Linked DNA regions of Homo sapiens: region 1 is linked to region 2. The links come from fine-mapping of genetic effects on gene expression. A gene starts in region 2. The other region holds a variant in brackets. All regions are shown on one strand. Distances are between the middles of the regions.

Region 1 (5,504 bases), 65 kb after region 2:
GGTCGGGGGCTCCTCCTCAGTATTGTCCCTTCAGGGTTTGCCAGAAAGATGTTACCGGACCCCACTACTTACCCAAAGTTAGCCTTTAGGTCGGGGGTTTCCGCACTGGAGCCCCTCCTGAGGTCACCAGAGATATGTCACCTACCCAACGCTAGGTTTTGAGTCTGCAGTTTTTCTTCTGTGGTCGCCAGAAAGATGTTACCGGAAAGGGGTCCCGATCCAGACCCCGAGAGAGGGTTCCTGGATCTCATGCAAGAAAGAAATCAGGGGGAGTCCATAAAGTGAAAGCAAGTTGGCCGGGCGCAGTGGCTCACGCCTGTAATCCCACCACTTTGGGAGGCCAAGGCGGGCGGATCACGAGGTCAGGAGATCGAGACCATCCTGGCTAACACGGTGAAACCCCGTCTCTACTAAAAATACAAAAAAAAAAAAATTAGCTGGGCGTGGTGGCGGGCGCCTGTAGTCCCAGCTACGCGGGAGGCTGAGGCAGGAGAATGGCATGAACCCCGGGGGGCGGAGCCTGCAGTGAGCCGAGATCGCGACACTGCACTCCAGCCTGGGCGACAGCGAGACTCCGTCTCAAAAAAAAAAAAAAGAAAGCAAGTTAGTTTATTAGGAAAGTAAAGGAATCAAGAATGGCTACTCCATAGACAGAGCGGCCCCGAGAGCTGCGGGCTGCCCATTTTTACGGTTATTTCTTGATGATATGCTAAACGAGGGGTGGATAATTCATGCCTCCCCTTTTAGACCATGTAGAGAAACTTCCTGACCTTGCCATGGATCTGTAAACTGTCAGGACCTTGGTGGGAGTGTAGCGCTGAGGACGACCAGAGGTCACTCTCGACACCATCTTGGTTTTGGAGGGCTTTGTCCGGCTTCTTTACTCCAAACTGTTTTATCAGCAAGGTCTTTATGACCTGTAGCTATTGCCGACCTCCTATGTCATCCTGTGACTTAGAATGCCTTAACCGTCCGGGGATGCAGCCCAGCAAGTCTCAGCCTCATCTTACCCAGCTCCTAATCAAGATGGAGTTGCTCTGGTTCACATGCCTCTGACAGAACAGTCTCTGCTGTTTCGCCCTCTGGACCAGCCAGAACATTTCTCTCCCTGTCTCTCCACTCTCCCTGGGATGCCACTAGGTCTCTGCTCCTGAGAGCCAGGGTGTTCACCTTGGAGGCACACGGAGTCCATTTTCCACCTTGTGTGACTGTGTGCCTGGTGCTAGTGAGGCAGGAAAACAAGGCCTGGAGACAGGGAACATAAGACCGATTCACACCTCAGCTATGACAGGAAATATCCTCTCCATAGGGCCTGCACCCAGTAAATGACTTTGTAACTTTACTTCATCCTCTCCATTTACAGAGGGCGTACACCAAGTAACCAACGGAATCCTCTAGAAGGTATTTAAACTCCCCAAAATTCTGTAATGGGGCCCTTGAGCCCCATGCTCCGGCCGCTCCCACGCTGTGGCGTGTACTTTCCTTTTCAGTAAATCTCTTCATTCCTTCCTTCCTTTGTGGGTTTTGTCCAGTTCTTTGTTCAAGAAACCAAGAACCTGGGCAACCTCAACAGGTAATGATATGAAATTCATATTCACCCAGTGACTCTGAGCCCTTTTTAAAGAAGAGAGACTTTGGGTGTGTTACTTTACCTCTAGAGGGGCTGAAAGGTCCCCCCAGCTGGGAAACGAAGGCCCAGCCCGAGCTGCTATTGGTGGGCGGCACCCAGGCCATGAGAGCAGAAGACGCTCAGAAAGATCTCTTTCTAAACAAATCAAAGCCCAGTTTTGTTTTTGTTTTTCTGGCTTTTTGTTTTTTTGTTAAAGCAAAGTATCAGACTGCGAATAGACACCAGTTTCATCTCAGACTCACTGCTGGAGAACCAGCAAATCCCTGTGTCTGCCCGGCAGGTTCCTATGGAGAACCTTCGACTGGTTTCCAGGGCAGGAAGCCAGGCCCAACTCTGTGGACTGAGCCAGTGAATCGGCCTCAGGCCAGGCACAGAGCCGGCCCCAGAGGCTGGGGTGAAACACGAGCTGTGAGCTGCAAATCAGAAACAGAGCGACAGGACACTATTTTCATGACGAGGTTCTGGGTTTTTCCCTGATGTTTGTTTCCTCGGTTTTTTTGTTTGTTTTTCCCTTCCCAGTATTTTTGGACTTGAACTTTAGAACTTCAACTTCTCTGAGGTTTAGCTTGGCGGGAGGAGGGGGATTAATTACCGTACCGTAATTTCTCCTGGGATACTGGATTTGGGAAAGGGTATATATCCTAATTTGCCATTCTGAATTGGTTGCATTTGATTAAAAGCATGACTTCTATCATGGAGGGTCCAGCCCTACGGGGCTTGGCGGGTGTTCTCCCCGTGTGTGGAGACGAGAGACCGGAAGAAATAAATACACAAGACAAAGAGATAGAGAGAAAACAGCTGTGCCCGGGGAACCACTACCACCAAGATGCGGAGACCGGTAGTGGCCCCGAATGGCTGGGCACGCTGATATTGATTGCATACAAGACAAGGGGGCAGGGTAAGAACGGTGAGTTGTCCAAGTGATTGATAAGGTCAAGCAAGTCATGTGACCATAGGACAGGGGCCCTTCCCTTACAGGTAGCGGGAGCAGAGAGGGAAGGCAGCATACGTCAGCGTTTTCTTCTATGCACTTTTAAGAAAGATCAAAGACGGCCGGGCGCAGTGGCTCACGCCTGTAATCCCAGCACTTTGGGAAGCCGAGGCAGGCAGATCAGTTGAGGTCACGTGGCCAAGACCAGCCTGGCCAACATGGTGAAACCCTGTCTCTACTAAAAATACAAAAAATTAGCCACGCATGGTGGCAGGCGCCTGTAGTCCCAGCTATTTGGGAGGCTGAGGCAGGAGAATGGTGTGAACCCAGGAGGCGGAGCTTGCAGTGAGCCGAGATCGCACCACTGCACTCCAGCCTGGGCGACAGAGCAAGACTCTGTCTCAAAAAAAAAGAAAAAAAAAAAGAAAGAAAGAAAGATCAAAGACTTTATTTCTTCTACCGCTATCTTCTAAGAACTTCAAAGAGGAACCAGGAGTAAGGGAGGAGCATGAAAGTGGACAAGGAGTGTGATCATTCAAGCACCACAGGGAGGGGGTTAGGCCTCCGGATGACTGCGGGCCAGGCCTGGAGAATATCCAGCCTCCCACAAGAAGCTGGTGGAGCAGAGTGTTCCCTGACTCCTCCAAGGAAAGAAGACTC[C/G]CTTTCACGGTCGGCTAAGTAACGGGTGCCTTCCCAGGCACTGGCGTTACCGCTTAACCAAGGAGCCCTCAAGCGGCCCTTATGTTGGTGTGACAGAGGGCTCACCTCTTGCCTTCTAGGTCACTTCTCACAACGTCCCTTCAGCACCTGACCCTATACCCGCCGGTTATTCCTAGGTTATATTAGTAATGCCACAAAGAGAAATATTAAAAGCTAATGACTAATAATGTTTATACTGATTGATAATGTCCACGATAAAAGCTAATGATTAATAATGTTTATACTAATGATTGATATGTCCATGATCATCTCTAATTTGTATTATAACTATTCTTATTCTCTTTATTATACTGAAAGTTTGTGCCTTGTCTTTTTTTTTTTTTTTTTTTTTTTTTTTTTTTTTGAGACAGAGTCTCGCTCTGTCGCCCAGGCTGGAGTGCAGTGGCGCATCCGGGCTCACTGCAAGCTCCGCCTCCCAGGTTCACCCCATTCTCCTGCCTCAGCTTCCCGAGTAGCTGGGACTACAGGCGCCCGCCATGTGCCTTCAGTCTTTTGCCTCCGCACCTGGGTAATCCTCCGCCCACACTATCACATGCCCTGAATAATGGGGTTAAGAACAATTTGGGGTGGAAAACAGGGTAGGAAGGGAACAGATGGCTCAGAACACAGGAAGTTAATTTAACTGCAGTCCAGGGAGGATGGCATTCTGGAAGCCGAGTCGGCCTGAGGTCTAAGGGGCGGAGGGAACTCCAAGCTTGGCCTGGAGCTCAGGGAAGGGAGCTCGCGTGGACTTCAGGAGCCCGGTGGGTGCTTCCTGTGCACAAACGGGCAGGGTCTGAGCTCCCACCGTCTGGAAATGCTGCCCAGTGGATTTCAGCCTCATTTTACCCAGCTCCCAATCAAGATGGAATTGCTCTGGTTCAAACGCCTAGCTTCGCCAGCTAGGGGGTGAACCGGCCACAGATCCCCGGAGGCCAACAGAAGACAGAGCCCCTGGGTCAGAGGCAAGGACGGTTGACTTCTCAGGCAGGGAGGTGGCCAAGGGAACCGCTTCTGCGGCGGCTTCCCAAGCCCCAGCTCCCGCAGAAGGCCTGGAGGGGCCCGGGGACCCGTGCCACGCAGTGAGTGGCGGCAGGACACGAGCCCGGGGGCGCAGCTTCCTGGACACTCTGCCCCCAGACACTGGCTGCCACGCGGGACGGTGACCAGCGCTGCCCTCGGCGCCCGGGAGGCCTCCCAGGGCTGTGCGCCAGGAAAACATTCCCGAACCGACGGCCGGGAATGGAACGGGGCGGGGCGTTTCCCAGCCCGAGGAAAACAGCCCTGAAAGCGCGGCCAGGAATGGATGGGGGTGGGGCGTTTCCCAGCTGCTCTCCAGGGAGCCGCCTGGAGCGGGGGAAGGGGGGGGCGGCGCGTTCCAACGGTGGGGGGGCTCGTTCCAACGGTGGGGGGGCGGGTCTGCGTTTCGGGCCCCCAGACACGCAGCACGCGGAGGAGCGCCCCGCCCCGTCTAGAGCCCCTTCCTCCACAGCAGGGCCGGGGCGCAGGGGGTCTCCCCGCACCCAGCGCGTCCCGCCCCGTCCCGAACACAAAGGGCTCTGCCCGTCCGCGCTCCCACGAGGCGGCCCCTCCCCGCTTCCGGCCGAGGTGCGGTCGTCACTTCGGGGAAACGGAGAAAGCGCCTGGGGGGCGGGGCACACACACCATGCACATACACACCCCACACACACGTACCATGCACACACATATACACACACCACATATATACATGTCACACACATACCATGCACATACATACACACACCACACACATACACACATCACACACACACCATGGACATACACACACACCACACAAGCACCGTGCACACAAATATACACAAACCACATACACACGTGACACACATACACACATGCAACATGCACACACACCACAAACACATGCACCATGCACACACATACACACCACAAACATACATACACACGCATGCACCATGCACACACATATACACACCACGCACATACATGCATCATGCACGGACACACCCCACACATATACACATGCACCATGCACATACACACCACACACACACGCACCATGCACACACATATACAGCCACCACATACATACATATGTCACACACACATACACAGGCACAGTGCACATACATACACACCACACACATACACACAGCACACACACATACACACATGCACCATGCACATACACACATACACATCACAACACACACACCACAAACACACCACACACATCACACACAT
Region 2 (5,000 bases):
TGGAGCGCAGGGTTTCCTGTTGCATGAAACGGGGGTCTGAGGAAGTCTAACTGACGACTGGGCATTTGAAAACCCGAAGGAGTGAGGGGGCAAGCCCCAAAGAGGTCTTGAGAAAAAGGGCTTCAGGCAATTATGCTGCCAGAGCAAGCCAGGCGGGGAGCTTGGAAAGCTCCAGAAGCAGCAAGGAAGCCAGGTAGCGACAGCGGAGTAGGGGAGGGGGAGGAGATGAGGTCAGGGAACCCAGGCAGGTGCAGGAAGGGGTTTGCGGGTGGAGCTTGCGTGCTTGGAAAGCTCCAGAAGCAGCAAGGAAGCCAGGTAGCCGCAGCGGAGTAGGGGATGGGGAGGAGATGAGGTCAGGGAACCCAGGCAGGTGCAGGAGGGGGTTTGCGGGTGGAGCTTGCGTGCTTGGAAAGTTCCAGAAGCAGCAAGGAAGCCAGGTAGCCGCAGCGGAGTAGGGGAGGGGGAGGAGATGAGGTCAGGGAACCCAGGAAGGTGCAGGAGGGGGTTTGCGGGTGGAGCTTGCGTGCTTGGAAAGTTCCAGAAGCAGCAAGGAAGCCAGGTAGCCGCAGCGGAGTAGGGGACGGGGAGGAGATGAGGTCAGGGAACCAAGGCAGGTGCAGGAGGGGGTTTGCGGGTGGAGCTTGCGTGCTTGGAAAGTTCCAGAAGCAGCAAGGAAGCCAGGTAGCCGCAGCGGAGTAGGGGAGGGGGAGGAGATGAGGTCAGGGAACCCAGGCAGTTGCAGGAGGGGGTTTGCGCCGGGTGGAGCTTGCGTGAGGAGCGCTTTTGGATCGTCCTCCGTGAGTTGGGCGCCATGGCTGCCTTCTGGGCAGAGTGCAGGGCCTGCCTTAAATGTTGTGGGGGTTCTGTTCTCAACAAAGGCGTAAGTTGGGAGCGACTGAGCCACTCCAGGAGGAGGTGTGGGCCCACGGCGTGTTGGAGGTGGAGCCACAGGACCTGTCCATAGGTTGGATGCTGTGTGGGTGACAGAGAGAAACCGGGGCTCACGGCCTGGGCAGCGGGACGGGCGGAGTCGTCCTCACCTGTGCTGGGGACCCTGTGGGAGCAGCAGGCTTCCGAGCACGTGCTGGACCCCGGCGTCTCCGGCTGCACCGAGTGGTCAGGACATTGAGGCCGGGTCAGGGAGCGTGAGATACCGGGACGAGCGGGCCCAGGGCTGAGCCCAGCGGCGTCCGGGTGGGCGGTGGCGTTGAGATGGGAATTGGGAATTGCACCGGTGGTCTCAGGAGGATGGAAAACCCAAGCAGCAGCTGCACCAGGACCGAGGCAAAGGGACCGCAGTTTAACAGAAAACCCAAAACGAGAGCGAGAAAACGGCCAAACACCCGTGCGAGTGAGACGTCCATGAGCCTTCCCGGCAAAACGCCCAATAAGGGAGAAGGGGCAGGCGCGGCGGGGGCCGGGGTTCCCTGAAGTCCCCTTCGTTTCCAGAATCCCTAAAGATCATTCCGCCCCCCAGGGAGGAAACCCAAGCTCCGCCGAGCGCGGCGGGTCTGTGCCTTCGCTTCGCTTCCAGCCTCTCGCTTCCTTCTGACCCGACCCCGAGTTCTTTCTCCGGACGGTGTCGAGAACCCGGGCGCCGGCTGGGGCTGGAGTCTCGCTGGCCTCGGAGCGCCCCCGAGCCCTCGGGCGACAGCGAGGCGAGGACCCAGGTGGAGGCGGCCGGGGGCGCGGGCGGAGGGAGGAGGCGCGGGAGGGAACCCCCGGCCCGCGGGCCCCACCCACAGCCGCCCCGGGACGCAGCTCGGGGTCCAGGCTCGAGCTTTGCTCACTCAGGGCGCTTCGTGCAGGGAACGCCAGGCCCCCGGACGCGACCCACGCGGCCGCTGCCAGCGGGGACCGAGGGGAGCCGGGGCCGCGGCCGCGAGTCCACGTCCCGCCCCCGGGCCCGGCCCAGCGACCGCCCCCGCCGCCCAGGGACCGCCCCCGCCTCCCAGCGACCGCCCGGGCCCTCGGGGCGGGGACCGCGGACCTTCCTGGTGGCGCGGCAGCCGGGCGGCTCCTCCTTCCTCCCGGCCCTGGCGTGGAGCAGAGGGACACAGGTTCCCACGCTGGCGCCCGGCGACCGGGTGGGGCTGCGGTGAGTCCCAGAGGCCCCCGCCCCGCAGCTCCCGGCCGCCCCGGCCCGTCCCCCCAGCCCCCGGTCGCCCCATCCTCCCTCCCCCACCCGCGCCTGCCCCAGCCGCCTACACCCCCGAGACCCCCACCCGCCCGGCGCCCCGGCAGCCCCGGACTCCCTCCCCCATCCCGCCCAGCGCTCCCCCCACCCTCCACACACGCCCGCCCCCACGTGCCACCAACAGACGCAGGTCCCGACCACAGAGGGTGGGGGCAAGACCGGGGTTGTGGGGGGTGCGTTTGGAAAGCAGGGTTAGGACTGGAATTCTAAGGTAGCAGGAGGGAGAGACACACTCAGGGGCTCAGCTGGGTTCCTGGAGATCAACCTTTGGGGTCTGAGCCCCTCTGAGAGTCGAGCTCCTTTCCTGCGAGGCCCCGTCTAGGAGGGGCCTCAGGAAAATCGGGGCTGCCCAGCTGGTTCCGCAACTCCCCCCAGTTCTGAGGGAGGCTTCAGGGGATTACAGACGGTCTCAAGAGGGAGGCCCAGCCAGTCCCGCGGCCCCTGACACCCCATCAGGCCGCTCAGGCCCAGCAGCTCCATGGAGGACGCCGGCGAGGACCCCACCACGTTTGCTGCCCACTCTCTGCCCAGTGACCCCCGTCTCTTGGCCACTGTGACCAACGCATACCTGGGCACACGAGTGTTTCACGACACGCTGCACGTGAGCGGCGTGTACAATGGGGCTGGCGGGGACACGCACCGGGCCATGCTGCCCAGCCCCCTCAACGTCCGGCTGGAGGCCCCTGCAGGGATGGGGGAGCAGCTGACCGAGACCTTCGCCCTGGACACCAACACAGGTAGCGCCACCTGGCCTGCCTCACCCCTGCCCCAGGCATTGTTCCAGGTCGGTGGGGCAACCACAGCATCGAATCCCACCAGCACCTCCTGAGTTTACACAGGAAGTCTCACTAAGACAGGAGGCCCCAGAGGCCCGCAGGGTCCCCCCTTCCCTCCACCTGGAGGCCTCCTGTGCAGCTGTAGCGGGAACGAGCAGCCGAGGGCCCAGAGGGATCCGCCTCATTGTGGGGAGAGGCAGCGGTCGGGTGGTCCACTCCTGCCCCAGAGAGGCCATAGCTTGGCAACCCACCTGCCTTCGCTTCTGCCTCCCCAGGCTCCTTTCTTCACACCCTGGAGGGCCCCCGCTTCCGGGCCTCCCAGTGCATCTATGCGCATCGCACGCTGCCCCACGTGCTGGCTTTCCGAGTGTCCATCGCCCGCCTGGCCCCGGGGAGCGGGCCCATCACGCTGCTCCTGCGGTCAGCCTTCTCCCCAGAAAGCCCAGACCTGGACCTGCATCAGGGTCCTGACTTCCAGGGAGCCCGGTAAGGAGGGGGCTGGATTTGCAGCCAGGGAGTCCAGGGAGGGAGCTCATCCCTGAGGCATGGCCACGCTCTCACAGGTACCTGTATGGCCACACCCTCACCCCTGAGCAGCCCGGGGGGCCACAGCAAGAGGTACACATGCTGTGGACACCAGCACCCCCAGACCTGACCCTTGGGGAAGGTGAGGAGGCTAGGACGTGGGACTTCCTGACAGCAGTGGGCGGCAGCCAGGCTGAGGCTCAGGCCTGCCTCACTGAGGCCCTGCAGCTGCAGGCCAGGGGAGCTCTGTATACGGCTCACGCACAGGCCTGGGCCCAGCTCTGGGTAGAATGTGGCTTGGACGTGGTGGGGCCCCTGCAGCTGCGCCAGGCCCTGCGTGGCTCCCTCTACTACCTGCTCAGTGCCCTGCCCCAGCCCAAGGCCCCAGGATACATCTGCCATGGCCTCAGTCCTGGGGGCCTCTCCAATGGGAGCCGTGAGGAATGCTACTGGGGCCACGTCTTCTGGGACCAGGTGAGCACTGTACACCCAGCACCAGCCACACAGCAGGCGACACATGGAGGTCCACGGTCTCTGCCCTCCCTGGGACCAGGGCTATGGTTGGGGAAGCACAGGGACTGTGGCAAAAGGGAAGAGGCCTGGAAGGTGTGCAGGAGTTTGGTAGAGGAGTGATCTAGGTGAGGGGAATGGAAGGTGCAGAGACCAGAGCTGAGAGGGCCTGAGGCACTTTCCAGAGCGTGGGGAGGGGCCTCCACCAAGGCGAGAAGGGCTGCAGGTCCAGATCACCAGCGTTTGTAGACAGTAGTGTGGCGCTTGGAGTTTACCTGAGGGCCAGTGGAGCTCCAGGGACCTATCAGGACGGGGACCTGTGGGGACTGGGAAGGCCTGTGGGGCTGCGTGGAGCCCGGTACTGGAGGCCGACGGGGGTGACGGGGACGCTGAGGGCACAGAGCGGAGGGGCATGATGGCTGCTGGGCGTGGAGGTGTCGAGAGTGACTGTGCTGGGGCTGCTCCATCGTTGTCTGAGCCTCCCGGTGCTGCCGCTGTGGCCGTTTCTTTGATGAGGCTCTCAGAGGCCGAGTCATTCACTGCCAGCCTGAAGCTGCCCATGCGCATATTCGGGCTGGAGCCTCTGAGGCCACACAAACGCCGGCTGGGGAGGCGAAGTGTGGGGCTGAGCACCAGAACTCCAGGAGCGTCTGGGCTGGAGACAGAACTGGGTGGGCAGGTGGGGAGGGCCTGCAGATCTGAGTGGGCAGCCGAGGAGGAACCCAGAAGACGCCAGCGATGGAGCTCTGCCGGGGCGGAATGTGGCCAGGAGGGGCGGGAGCAGTGACGGCCTGTCCGGCGCTAGAACGAGGGACCGTGCTCTCAGGACCTCTGGATGTTCCCGAGTATCCTGATGTTCCACCCAGAAGCCGCCAGGGCCATCCTGGAGTACCGCATCCGCACGCTGGACGGGGCCCTGGAGAACGCCCAGAACCTGGGCTACCAGGTGAGGGGACCTGGGGCACTGGCCCGTAGGGCCCTGCAGGGCCTGC

Evidence for each region. PIP is the estimated chance that this variant, and not a neighbour inherited with it, causes the effect. A credible set is the group of variants that fine-mapping cannot tell apart.
Region 1: its variant is the best candidate, but not a certain one, in a credible set for the expression of PGGHG in fibroblasts (GTEx, PIP 0.55).

What each region holds. Positions count from the first base shown.
Region 1 is chr11:351,535-357,038 of GRCh38, forward strand. No RefSeq gene overlaps it. Among named protein-coding and RNA genes, the nearest start is that of B4GALNT4, 15 kb to the right of the region's middle. RefSeq lists enhancers at 1,506-1,555, 2,785-3,361, 2,867-3,156, 4,343-5,295 and silencers at 1,956-2,122, 4,591-4,910. The variant C/G (reference allele first, on the strand shown) is at 3,222.
Region 2 is chr11:287,142-292,141 of GRCh38, forward strand. It overlaps PGGHG (protein-glucosylgalactosylhydroxylysine glucosidase), which reads left to right and starts at 1,985. Exons shown (of 14, transcript NM_025092.5): 1 at 1,985-2,098; 2 at 2,663-2,934; 3 at 3,249-3,459; 4 at 3,537-3,972; 5 at 4,835-4,954. The coding sequence starts at 2,676. RefSeq lists enhancers at 632-1,161, 1,162-1,691 and silencers at 1,575-2,104, 2,115-2,174.